2 linked regions of the Homo sapiens genome follow. The protein of the gene in region 2 interacts with the protein of the main gene of each other region in a biochemical or structural test. Each region holds a gene or a part of one and is shown on either strand. Other genes may lie near its edges. The genes, in order: SERPINA10 and PSMB7.

Region 1 (6,900 bases), on a different chromosome or scaffold from region 2:
CCATAACACAATAGAAAGATGTCTTTAAAGTTCAAGGCAGGAGGGATGTCTGGAAATCAGCGAGAAATTTGCACCTGTGTGTGCATGTGCATATGTGTGTGTGTATGTTGCAAGGACTTGGAAAGCCCTTTTTTTCCTACCTCTGTACTACTGTGGGGGGAGGCTAAACTTGACTTCTTCCCATCTTAGTTCTTTTTTGGGATAGACTCCTGTAACAAAAGACAGACAAGAGAAAAATCAGCTTACAACATGGGCCATGCACTTCACACAGGAGAAACCTGCATGAAAAGTAACTCAAAATGGTGCCTTAGAACTCCACTTACCTTTAGTAAAGAGCAATAAATTAGCAGGAAAATCATGGATCGGGACAAGGGAAGTGGTTTTATGCTTCCAAGGGCAGGAAATCATGGAAGGTAAATATATGGGAGGAAACTAAAGGAATAAGGCTTGTTTGCATATTCCTCTGATGCCATCTCTGGGTTGATAAGAGTCTAGAGTCATTTCCAGTAAAGATGAATTTTTATCTGTCTTTAGGAAGAAAGGGGGAAAGATAGAGAAAACTATTTCTCCATTTGCTGTTTCTTAATTACCTTCAGTTCAAAAATAATTTTTATATCAGAAAGGCATATTTAGAGGTATGTTAGTTTATTTTCACACTGCTAATAAAGACATACCCAAGACTGGGTAATTTATAAAGAAAAAGAGGTTTAATGGACTCACCGTTCCACATGGTTGGAGAGGCCTCACAATCAAGGCAGGTCTTACATGGCAGCAGGCAAGAGGGAGAATGAGAGCCAAGCGAAAGGAATTTCCCCTTAAAAATCCCCTTATAAAACCATCAGATCTCGTGAGACTTACTCACTACCACAAGAACAGTATGGGGGAAACCACCTCTATGATTCAATGATCTCCCACTGGGTACCCCCCAACAACACGTGGGAATTATGGGAGCTACAATTCAAGATAAGATTTGGGTGGGGACACAGACAGACCATATCAAGGGGTAACATAGTCTGGTTTCCTTTACTACCCACCTACCCAAACACCCCCTTCATCTGATCCACACAAAGTAAACTCTTGCAGTTCTCTCACTGTTTCCTGGAGTCTGCTTTTGGTCTCATAGGACTGCCCTAACGCTTGTTTTTCAGACGTTTAACCCTGTAGGTCTCTGGACAAATTTGCTTTAGAAGCCCCTCGATGTCGCCCTGAAGAGTGGCTTTCAGAAGTTGTGCCTCCTGCCTGAGGGGAGTTCCAGGAAGGGTTCTGCATCGCCTATGAGTTTATCTGGATCACCAGAGGCCTTCCCGTCAGAGCTTTCCCAATCGTTTTTGGCCAAGGAGTGTGAGAAGCTAAAGTTCATAACAACTGGAAGTCAGACAGCCTGGTCTATTCTGCTTTAACTCTAGCAGGAAAGGCCTTCATGGTGGGGCCTGAATATCTTCCTTTATAAAATCAAAGCCTGGGGACAGGGTTACTTACTTCTGAGGTTCAATCTGGCTCTAAAATTATGCAACAAATGCCATTCCTTTAGCACTTCCTTCCTACCGGGCGAGATACTCAACTCCACAGGCACCACCTCAGTTCATCCTCTCAGAAGTCCTAACAGCTCAGCCTGGGGCACCCCATTTTACAGATTAGTAAACTGAGGCTAAGAGAGGTTAGGTAGCTTGTTCAGGGTCATGCTGCTGGTAAAAGAGCTCAGGCTACAGTGCTATGCATTGAGTTTTCTCACTTTCCCATCTAACTGGAGGGCTAAAGGTCAAAGAGTGGGCAGCTCCCTTGTTGGGAGCTGTACAGGAATAATGTCCTCCCTGAAGGAGGGGGACTTCTGAGCCACACCCTGGGGTCCAGGGCTCACAGCCTTAGGAGCAAAATCGTCCACCCCCTTCCTGGTTCCTCGGTGCTGCAGAGATATTCATAGGACAGAGTCTGAGTTCTGGCCACTTAACAGAGGAAGAAAGGCTGGCTCGGTGAGGTTAACTTACATCCCAGCAGCTAGGAACCGGGAGCAGAGGACCTCAGATTCACACCAGGGCAGGAGGCAATGGCCTGGCTGAAGCCTTCACAATCTTCCCAATATACTCCGCTGCCTTCCTTTATAAGGATCCATTTCTGAAACCCTGTGCCCTGGCCAGGCACGGTGGCTCACACCTGTAATTCCAGTACTTTGGGAGGCCAAGGCAGGAGGACCACGAGGTCAGGAGTTTGAGACCAGCCTGGCCAATATGGTGAAACCCCGTCTCTACTAAAAATAGAAAAATTAGCGTGGTGGCAGGCGCCTGTAATCCCAGCTACTCGGGAGGCTGAGGCAGGAGAACTGTTTGAACCTGGGAGGTGGAGGTCTCAGTGAGCTGAGACAGACAGTGCCTGGGTGACAGACAGAGACTCCGTCTCAAAAAAAAAAAAAAAAAGAAAGAAACCCTGTGCCCTAAGACCTGCACACTCGCTGGCTCCGCTCAGACATTTAGCAAAGCAGACACCTTCCCAGGCCTGGAGGAAACAGCCCCTGCTTTTTGGGAATCCACAAGCCCGCAGCTGCAGAGCTCGACCTGGATGGGCAGGCAAAGGCTGACTCCTGTGCGTGGTGTGAGTCCAGCCTGGCCCCTCTACACCCTCACTTTCACCTCTTAAAGAACTGCCTATTAACAGAGCAGGTACTGCCCAAAAGGAACACTCTGGAAACTTGTTGGGACACTTCTGCCTTTCACAAACGTTTGGGGGGAGTACTACTAGCATTTAAGGATTGAGGGTTAGCAATGCCAGACATACCAGAACACGCAGGGCAGTCTCCCATGATGAAGAGGCCGCCGGGTTCCCCAGGACTCACATGTCCACCTCAAGTTCACGTGGGATTATCTGAGCCTAGACTGTCAGTCCTGGGGCTGCTTTATTTCATATAAAAATATAATATTTATCCAAGGTTTTACTACACACTGCATTTTCTGTGAAGACAATGACCGTGTAAATCAGGGAAAGATCTATATTTTATTTTGTTTGAAACTTTACCAAGCATTATTTACCATTTCAAAAGCTCTATCCCTGGTAGTACCATTGGTTTTCTTGTTCACCGGCCAGCAGTGAGCAGCACACAAGCGACCTCCCGTGGGCTCCACATTGGACAGCCTCACTGCACCTGCCCAGGCCCTTAGGCCACAGCACTGCCATATTCAGGGACACATTATTCTCTTTTATTATGCCTCCATATTATCATTACAGCATTATCTTTTTTTTAATTTTGTGGGTAGATTATATTAGCTATACGTTTCACTTCAATGGTAGTAGTAAGGGGCACATAACAAAATATTTACTTATATATATTAAAAAAGAGAGTCTGAGAAGTCTGAAAAGTTTTGCCATAAACGGTCTCCACCAGCCTCAACTCTGAGTGCCCGAGGATTCAGTCTCAAGTCCAGCAACATTGTGAAGCAGGAAATTTACCTTGAAAGGAGCTATGTACTCTAAGTAGTGATTTACCTGTCTGCCTCCCCCACTGGATTGACCAGTTCCTTGGGGGCTGAGAGAACAGGTCCTGAACATTTCTGCTGTGCCCCCCAACCCACATCCTCATAGTGTCCAGTACCAGGCTGGGGACTCAGGAAGCATCCATGGGATCCCCCAGTGCCTTCTTTCTCGAGGTGTTCAGCACCTAGAACAGCTCAAGACAAATTCCCCACACCCCACCCAGACAGAGCTGAATCTTACTGGGGCGAAGCCTTGAGTTGCAAGGCAGAAGCTCTCGTGATGGGATTTGGGTCATATTCCGGGTTATAGGAGGAGCTGGGGAGTATGGGAAGCCTCCCACTTGGTCTTTGGTTTTCCAGAAACTCCACCATCACAAGCAGGATGTTAATCAGTAACCGTCCCACAGGGGATCATACTTTGGAATAGCAAATATTTGCTGAAGGTTCTGGGCTGCAAAGCTGAAGCTTTGGTTTCTGCTCTAAATGAAGGACTTTTCCAGGACCCAAGGCCACACACTGGTAAGAGGCAGTGGGTTACAGGAGACCTTCAATGAGTCTAATCAGGGAGGGACCGGGAAGGATGGTATCATCCCTGGGCGGGCTCCAACGTGAGGGCTGTGTGGCTGAGCAGTGCAAAGACCTCCATCCTACACTCCACAGGGACTGTACATACAGATTGGGAGCTGGAGTGGGGTAAGAGGCGAATTATAGACACAAGGGGCTCCTCTGCAGGAAGGAGGCCAAGGGAAAGAGGCTTGAAAGGCTTGATATTTCACCCACCACCACTCACTGCCGGAGTAAGCAGGTCTCCCCTTCCCAGGGCTGAGGGGAGGCAGGGATGTGTGCTGTCCCAGGGCTGAGAAGTGGCAGGTGAGCTGGTGATTCCTTACTGCCCAGGTTCTGTCTAGGAAGGTGCGTCCTCACCATGCTGGATGGTGTCCTAGTCCAGGAGCACCCCCTGAGCTCCTGGCCTAGACTCCAAAGGGTTGGGTAGATGAGCAAAGACTTTACAAAGACCTTAGGCGATATATGTCCAGGAGCACCCAGGAATTACTGGGCTACCACTGCAGACTGCAGGACAAGCTCCAAGAACAGGAAGGTAAGACTCAGCATTTGGAGGTGGTGACATCTAGTTGGCGTGCTGGGCTAATTTCCTGACCATTGTACAGGGAGAAGTAACCTTGAATTCAGGAGTATTCTGTGTGGTCTTAATGTAGAAAGTAGCACTAAATGATGCCACGTAATCGTTTTAGCTCAGGCTCCTCTAACAAAACACCACAGGCTGGGTGGCTCCAACAGCCATTGATTTTTCACAGTTTTGGAGGCTGAAAGTCCGAGTCAGGGTGCCAGCGTGGCCGGATTCTGGTAGGGCTGTCTTCTTGGCTTGCAGATGGCCACCTTCGCACCGTGTCCTCCCATGGAGAGGAGGTGCGGAGGGGGACTCTGCTCTCTTCTTATGACAGCACTAGTGCTATCACAGGGGCCTTGCCCTCACGACCTCATCTAAACCTAATCACCTCCCAAGCGCCCCAACTCTATTGCCATCACAATGGTGGTTCGGGCTTCAACTTATTAATTCTCAGGGGACACATTCAGTCCATAACAATAAAAGCGTGAAACTGGGCTGCGTTTACACTGAAAGAGCTATTTACCCAACGTTTACAATACTTGGGTGACCTGTTGAATGCAGGCTTGCCATTTAGAGTCAAAAAGAGCTTCCTCAACAGTGTCCTTTGGGAAACACAGTGGAAGTATTTCACTGCTTCTACAGGGGAGAGGGTAGTGCCGTTCAGACTGCAGAGTGAGGCCCTGAATTCCGGGGTGCCATTCAGCCCGAGCAAGGGGCAACATGCTGGGCCCTGGCGCTGGAGGCGGTTTTGTCCCAGGCATAGATAAGGACTCAGCCCCTGCATCAGGAAGAGGCCTGGCAGCACCGCCTGTCAATACATTTTGCCGCAGGTGACCTTGGTCAAGAATAAGGGTCTCTGCTGATGGGAACTACTGTGAGGCCGGCAGCATCCACCCTGCGCTCACTGGGCTGGGTGGCCTACCCCACCCAGACCCTCCCAGGGCAGTGGGCCCAGAGAGAGGATGAGGGAGGGCAGGTGTCCCAGGGGTTCTGCCCAGCCAGCCTCTGGGATCAGGCCTGCAGTGTGGCTGAACACCAGAACTGAGTTTGGACACAGCCAGGTGGCCCAGGCCAGTCCCAAGCCATGTATTTGGATGGAAAACATGGAAGTATTCAGGAGCCAGGCTCTGTGTCCAAGGATGTGGAGGGAGCCTAAAAGGCGACAGAGAAGGGGACAGCTAACGGTGAAGAAGTGTAGCTCCCACACTGCAGCCTAGGACAGTGAGAACCGGCATGCAGCCCAGGTGGCTGAGGGCTCTATGAAGCCACAGTGGAGGGAGCCCAGAAGTGGGTTGTATGAATTGCGGGGCCTCCTGCTACCCGGGAGCTGCAGCTATAGGAAGGAAGGAAGGAAGGAAGACCTCCAAGGAACTGTGTAGCAGAGGTGCAGTGCAAAGAGAATTTTGATAAAAAATCCAGGAAAGCTCCAATACTTTCCCCCTTCCTTGCCTAACGGGCATGCAGGCACTCCAATCCCCAGCCAAACAGGGCACTGGGCAAGGCCGGCCACCCATCTGGATGGGCAGCCTGACGACCAGATGGTCAGGGCAGTGAATGAAGCAGATCAAGGAAAGGTGTGTGAGGACCCCTGATTCCACCTGCTTGGACCCCCACCTTCTGTGCTGCCTCCTGCTCCCAGAGTGGACTCTCTTGCCCTGGCCCTCAGGGAGGAGACGGGATGAATGAAAACGGGGTCAGGACTGAGAGCTGCCTGCCGGCCTGGCAGGGAATGGGAACTGGAGGAGGTTTTGCTCTGTGAAATAATGTCCCCTCTTTGGGTGAGCAAATGTCACCCACACTTGCTCTAGGTCTCCCTGGGGCAGGGCTAACCTACTTGAGCCACAGGAAGGAGGCAGGGTCCCTGAAGAAGCTTTTACTATCCACAAAGACATTTTAGGAGGCATTAAAACCATCTCTATCCTCTCCTCTCCACAGGAAGTCTTGCAGCTGAAGGGAGGCACTCCTTGGCCTCCGCAGCCGATCACATGAAGGTGGTGCCAAGTCTCCTGCTCTCCGTCCTCCTGGCACAGGTGTGGCTGGTACCCGGCTTGGCCCCCAGTCCTCAGTCGCCAGAGACCCCAGCCCCTCAGAACCAGACCAGCAGGGTAGTGCAGGCTCCCAAGGAGGAAGAGGAAGATGAGCAGGAGGCCAGCGAGGAGAAGGCCAGTGAGGAAGAGAAAGCCTGGCTGATGGCCAGCAGGCAGCAGCTTGCCAAGGAGACTTCAAACTTCGGATTCAGCCTGCTGCGAAAGATCTCCATGAGGCACGATGGCAACATGGTCTTCTCTCCATTTGGCATGTCCTTGGCCA
Region 2 (3,994 bases):
GTGAAATGATCATGTCCTACTTATTACAAAACCGTAACCCCAAAACATTCCTTTTATTTCTGTGAAACCGGCCAAAGTGAGGTCCACCCACCTTCACACAGCTCTGGCGGTGCACCTGCTCACCTTCTCTTGGTTCTCAGAACTGAGCTGGGCTTGAGAACACAGCTTTGGCTTTGCCATTTTTTTCCTACTTGGCTGCTGAGGTGGAGGGTGTGCTGCACTTATCACCCCATTTCAAAACCAAACCAAACCTGAGGCCACCCCAAACAAATTCAGCCAGCAAAAAGGGTAGGTATCGATGGTCACCTGAAGCCTCAAGGGAGTCCACTCTGACTTCTGACAGCAGACAGAACCTATCTGTCCTCAGGAGGGGCGCATGGCTCCTACGCTCTCCTCTGAGCCTAGGCCAGTGCTCAAGGAGGATCAGCACCCTGAAGGGCCAGGCCAATGGCCTTAGCAGCCCCCTACTGCCCCCAAAAACACCACACAGTGCCCAGACCTCAGCTGCCCAATTTGGTTTTTGTTTTTTATTGAGTTGAGTTTCATTCGGCAAACACTAGCCACATGAGTGTCTTACTGGGCCTCAATGCTCACCACCTTCCAGAACCGCGGCCAGCCACCCACTGATGCCATTCAGGAAGTGTCCATTGTTTGGACTGTTTCTTCCAGCACCTCAATCTCCAGAGGAGTGATTTTCTCAGTGAGGACTGCAGTAGTCCCTTTCTCACACCTGTACCGGCCAAGCCTAGTAAGAGAAAAACAAAAGCACAGAGTTAGGATTCTCCTCAAGGTGCCAGAGGGCAGAAGACAGTGAAAATAAATATTCAGGCAACGCAGTGAGCAGGCTGGACTGGAATCTTGGCTCTCCCGATCCCAGCTCTGTGATCTTGGGGGATTCAACTTCCTCAGTTCTCAAGTGCTGCAAAATGGGGGTGCCTGGGAGGCAAAGAGTGTCATTAGTGAACACGGCACCTGGCCCTTGGTGGACACGTGACTCTCCCCCCACCCCACCATCCCCACAAGTGCTGGGAAGCACTTGGTCCCTTGACATCAATCTTCAACCTCCCTACAATACTGTTCAGGGACAGCAGGAAGCAAATCCCATCATTACACAAGAGAAGGGCATGATTGCTCTTCCGTGCAGCAACAAGAATGACTTAACTGTTACCTTAGACACTGCACAAACATCTGGAAGCATAAACAGTGTAAAAAAAATGTGCAGCCAGACTCTGGGCTTGTCATTTCAGACCACTCTCAAGTCTCAAGAAAAGTTAACTGTCCCTTTCAGGGACACAGTGGGTCCCCACTAGGACACACCCAACACCTTCTTCCTGGAGTGAATCTGGCAGAGGTTTCTTTGAGCACCAGACTGTCTAGAAGATATGTATTTGGGCTGTTAATGCTCACAGTGGGTCAGGAATTAGGATACTGTCAAATGGCAGCACACAACCAACTGTTCCTCTGCTCTAGCCCCAGCTGGGGTAATATCTCTGTCAAACTTGCTGTCCTTCAGGAACTGCCAGAAGGCTGCTGGCTGTGCCATGGCCTTGTGCTCCCGGAACACCCATCCTCTCCCCTGGACACACGGGCTAAAAGAGGGAGCAGGAAGCAGAACAAGGAGGGCAACTTCCACAGTTCTGCATCCAGGTCAGGAGCACGGTCAGCCCAGAGCGGCCTGCCTTTATGCTGCCAAGCCTCCCCCGACCCCCACCCTCTTAAAGAATCCAAGCAAAAGTACCTTTGAACAATGTGTCCCCACCCCATCAGTTTGAGGATGCCCCTCATCCCTCACACGCTGGAACCTTGGTGGCAGCGTGCAGTCTTAGAGCCAAAGTCCCACGTGGCCTCTGTGTGCCTGACTCCTCTGAACCACCCCTCAGTGTCTCCGGGAGGCTTGGACACACAAGAGCCTCCTCACCACTGTGGTGACAGTGCCCGATTTTTGCGGCATGCATTCAGAGCTTCCGCCTTACGTGCCAGTGGACTGCAAGACCGTGTGCTGGAGGGCTGCGGGCAGACAGGCAGCAGGGACTTGCCAGGCAAGGCCCACTGGCGCATGGCACGGGATGCTTCCTCAGGCCTATCGCCCTGCCCGCACCCTAGCATCCACCCTGGGAAGGGCTCCCCTAACTCAGGCAGTGCCCCCATCTTCAGTCACTGGCAAAGAAGACAACAGAGTCCAGGGAGCTTGGACACTTGCTGCCCTTGGCCCCAGGACACCGATGGGGAGCAGGCTCCCTGCAGGTTACTGCACACCCACCACACGCCCAGCAGCTTCTGGGTCGCCTTGCTGATTCTTCCCAAGCAGCCGCAAGGCGGTTTTCTTTTGTTCTTGGGTGTTTAGAGCCTCTGTTTACAAGTGGAGCAGCCCATGTCCCAGGAAGTAGGATGTGCCACTGCTGCACTCCCTGTGGATGAGGACTCCTGCGCTCAGCACAGGTTCCCTAGGCAACCACTTCTCACTGGCCCAGACGTGGCTTTCAGAGTCCTCGCCCAGGACCCTGGCCAGCCTGAATGGTGTAACCATTCCCTACCCCATCACCGCTTCACCATGGACTTGCTCAAATCACGCATCTTGCAAAATAACCAGCGAAGCAGGCTACATGGAGTACTTGGCTCCTGCCTACCTGGAGCTCGGCAAAGCCCGGTTCCCCAACACAGCTCTGGGCCTGAAAGGTGGCTTGCCTTCCTGCTAAAGGCCCGAGGGACTTCGTGGGCTCATTAGAGGTCATCTGGTTTAGCTCCATTTCCAAGACAGACTGATTTGCTGGAAGCCACCAAGCCAGCCACCAACACTCCCCAACCCCAGTGCCAGCGTTCTCTGGCCCCGTGCTGCCCCACCCCATCAGGAGCCCACTGAGCTTCCGCAAGGTTGAGTGCAGCCCACAGTGAATACCTGCTGGTTCTGAACGTTCCATTCCTTCCTTGTGAATTACTCCTGATGTGGAGTTGTGTGTGCAGTGGGAGATGGAAGCAAGCCTGCAGAAGGTGGTGCTCACTTCCTCGGGGCTACCGTGGAGCTGAGTGGGAGCCGTAGTTTATAAATGCCCTGTGCTGCACCCAGATGCTGCAGCTGGAAGCAGCACTCAGGGAGCCCATCCTGACCTGCCCGGGCTCCCAGAAGAGGTCAGGAGCCACAGGATGGTCAAGCAGCCGGACAATCACGAGACACTGCAAACGAGCTGCTCCTCTGACACATGCTAGCCACCAGGTTTGGAAACCTCCCAGTTCTGCTCAGCAAATCAACTAGAACCTTCTCCCACTGCTCTGAGTCTGCGCTGCACCACTGAGCCGAGGGGCCCACTCGGCATGTAGGCTCAGGCTCAATGGCACAACTCCCTGTAGCACAGCACACACACACTAGCTCCCAAGGCCACCTCTGGGAGGCTGTTAGCATTGCTGACTTACACCCAGTTAGGAATCTCGGGGCACTCTGAGGGAAAGTGCTGGGGCTGCCCTGAAAAATGCACCTTCTCCCAGAAATCAGGGGATTCTTTAAGACACTTGAGAAAGGACAGCAGATGATCCAAACCTCTCCGGCCCCACCTCCCAGCCTAGGGCTCTTTCCTGGGCCACCCTCCACCTCTCCCATCAAATTAAATCACTTTCCTACACCTGACAGCAGCCCACTGTCATAAAGCAAGTAACAAGCCGAAGGTCTGTGTGGGAGGTTGATTTGGGAACACTGGATGTACTTAATGTGGAAAGAACCAGGAAAACTCCATCCAGATGCCATGGAGATACCAAGGGTGGCCACGACGCCAGGGGACCCAGGAAGAACTTCGTCTCCTTCACTCACCTGGTCCCCTTCTTGTTGGGCACTGTGTATGGGCGGAGAAAATCCAGCTTGTTCTTGCTGATGACGCAGAGGTCAATGTTGCTTCCGGAGCCCAGGTCGTTGAAGATGCCAGCTGCGATGGCTTCGCTCACCAGATTCTTGGCTTCCTCCTCCTGAGAAACAGAACGGCGGCAATAATGTCCCCGGCCAAACTAG

Evidence for each region.
Region 1: of the proteins of PSMB7 (region 2) and SERPINA10, one has a biochemical effect on the other in vitro, tested with the Homo sapiens proteins (one study listed by BioGRID).

What each region holds. Positions count from the first base shown.
Region 1 is NC_000014.9:94,290,269-94,297,168, reverse strand, and holds the start of SERPINA10 (protein Z-dependent protease inhibitor precursor), read left to right. Parts: upstream 1-3,900; 5' UTR 3,901-3,980; exon of another isoform or gene 3,981-4,490; coding exon of another isoform or gene 4,491-4,560; intron 4,561-6,525; coding exon of another isoform or gene 6,526-6,575; coding exon 6,576-6,900. UniProt on the Homo sapiens protein: Inhibits activity of the coagulation protease factor Xa in the presence of PROZ, calcium and phospholipids. Also inhibits factor XIa in the absence of cofactors.
Region 2 is NC_000009.12:124,352,965-124,356,958, forward strand, and holds the end of PSMB7 (proteasome subunit beta type-7 precursor), read right to left. Parts: exon of another isoform or gene 3,952-3,994; coding exon 3,800-3,951; exon of another isoform or gene 746-3,799; coding exon 634-745; 3' UTR 501-633; downstream 1-500. UniProt on the Homo sapiens protein: Component of the 20S core proteasome complex involved in the proteolytic degradation of most intracellular proteins. This complex plays numerous essential roles within the cell by associating with different regulatory particles.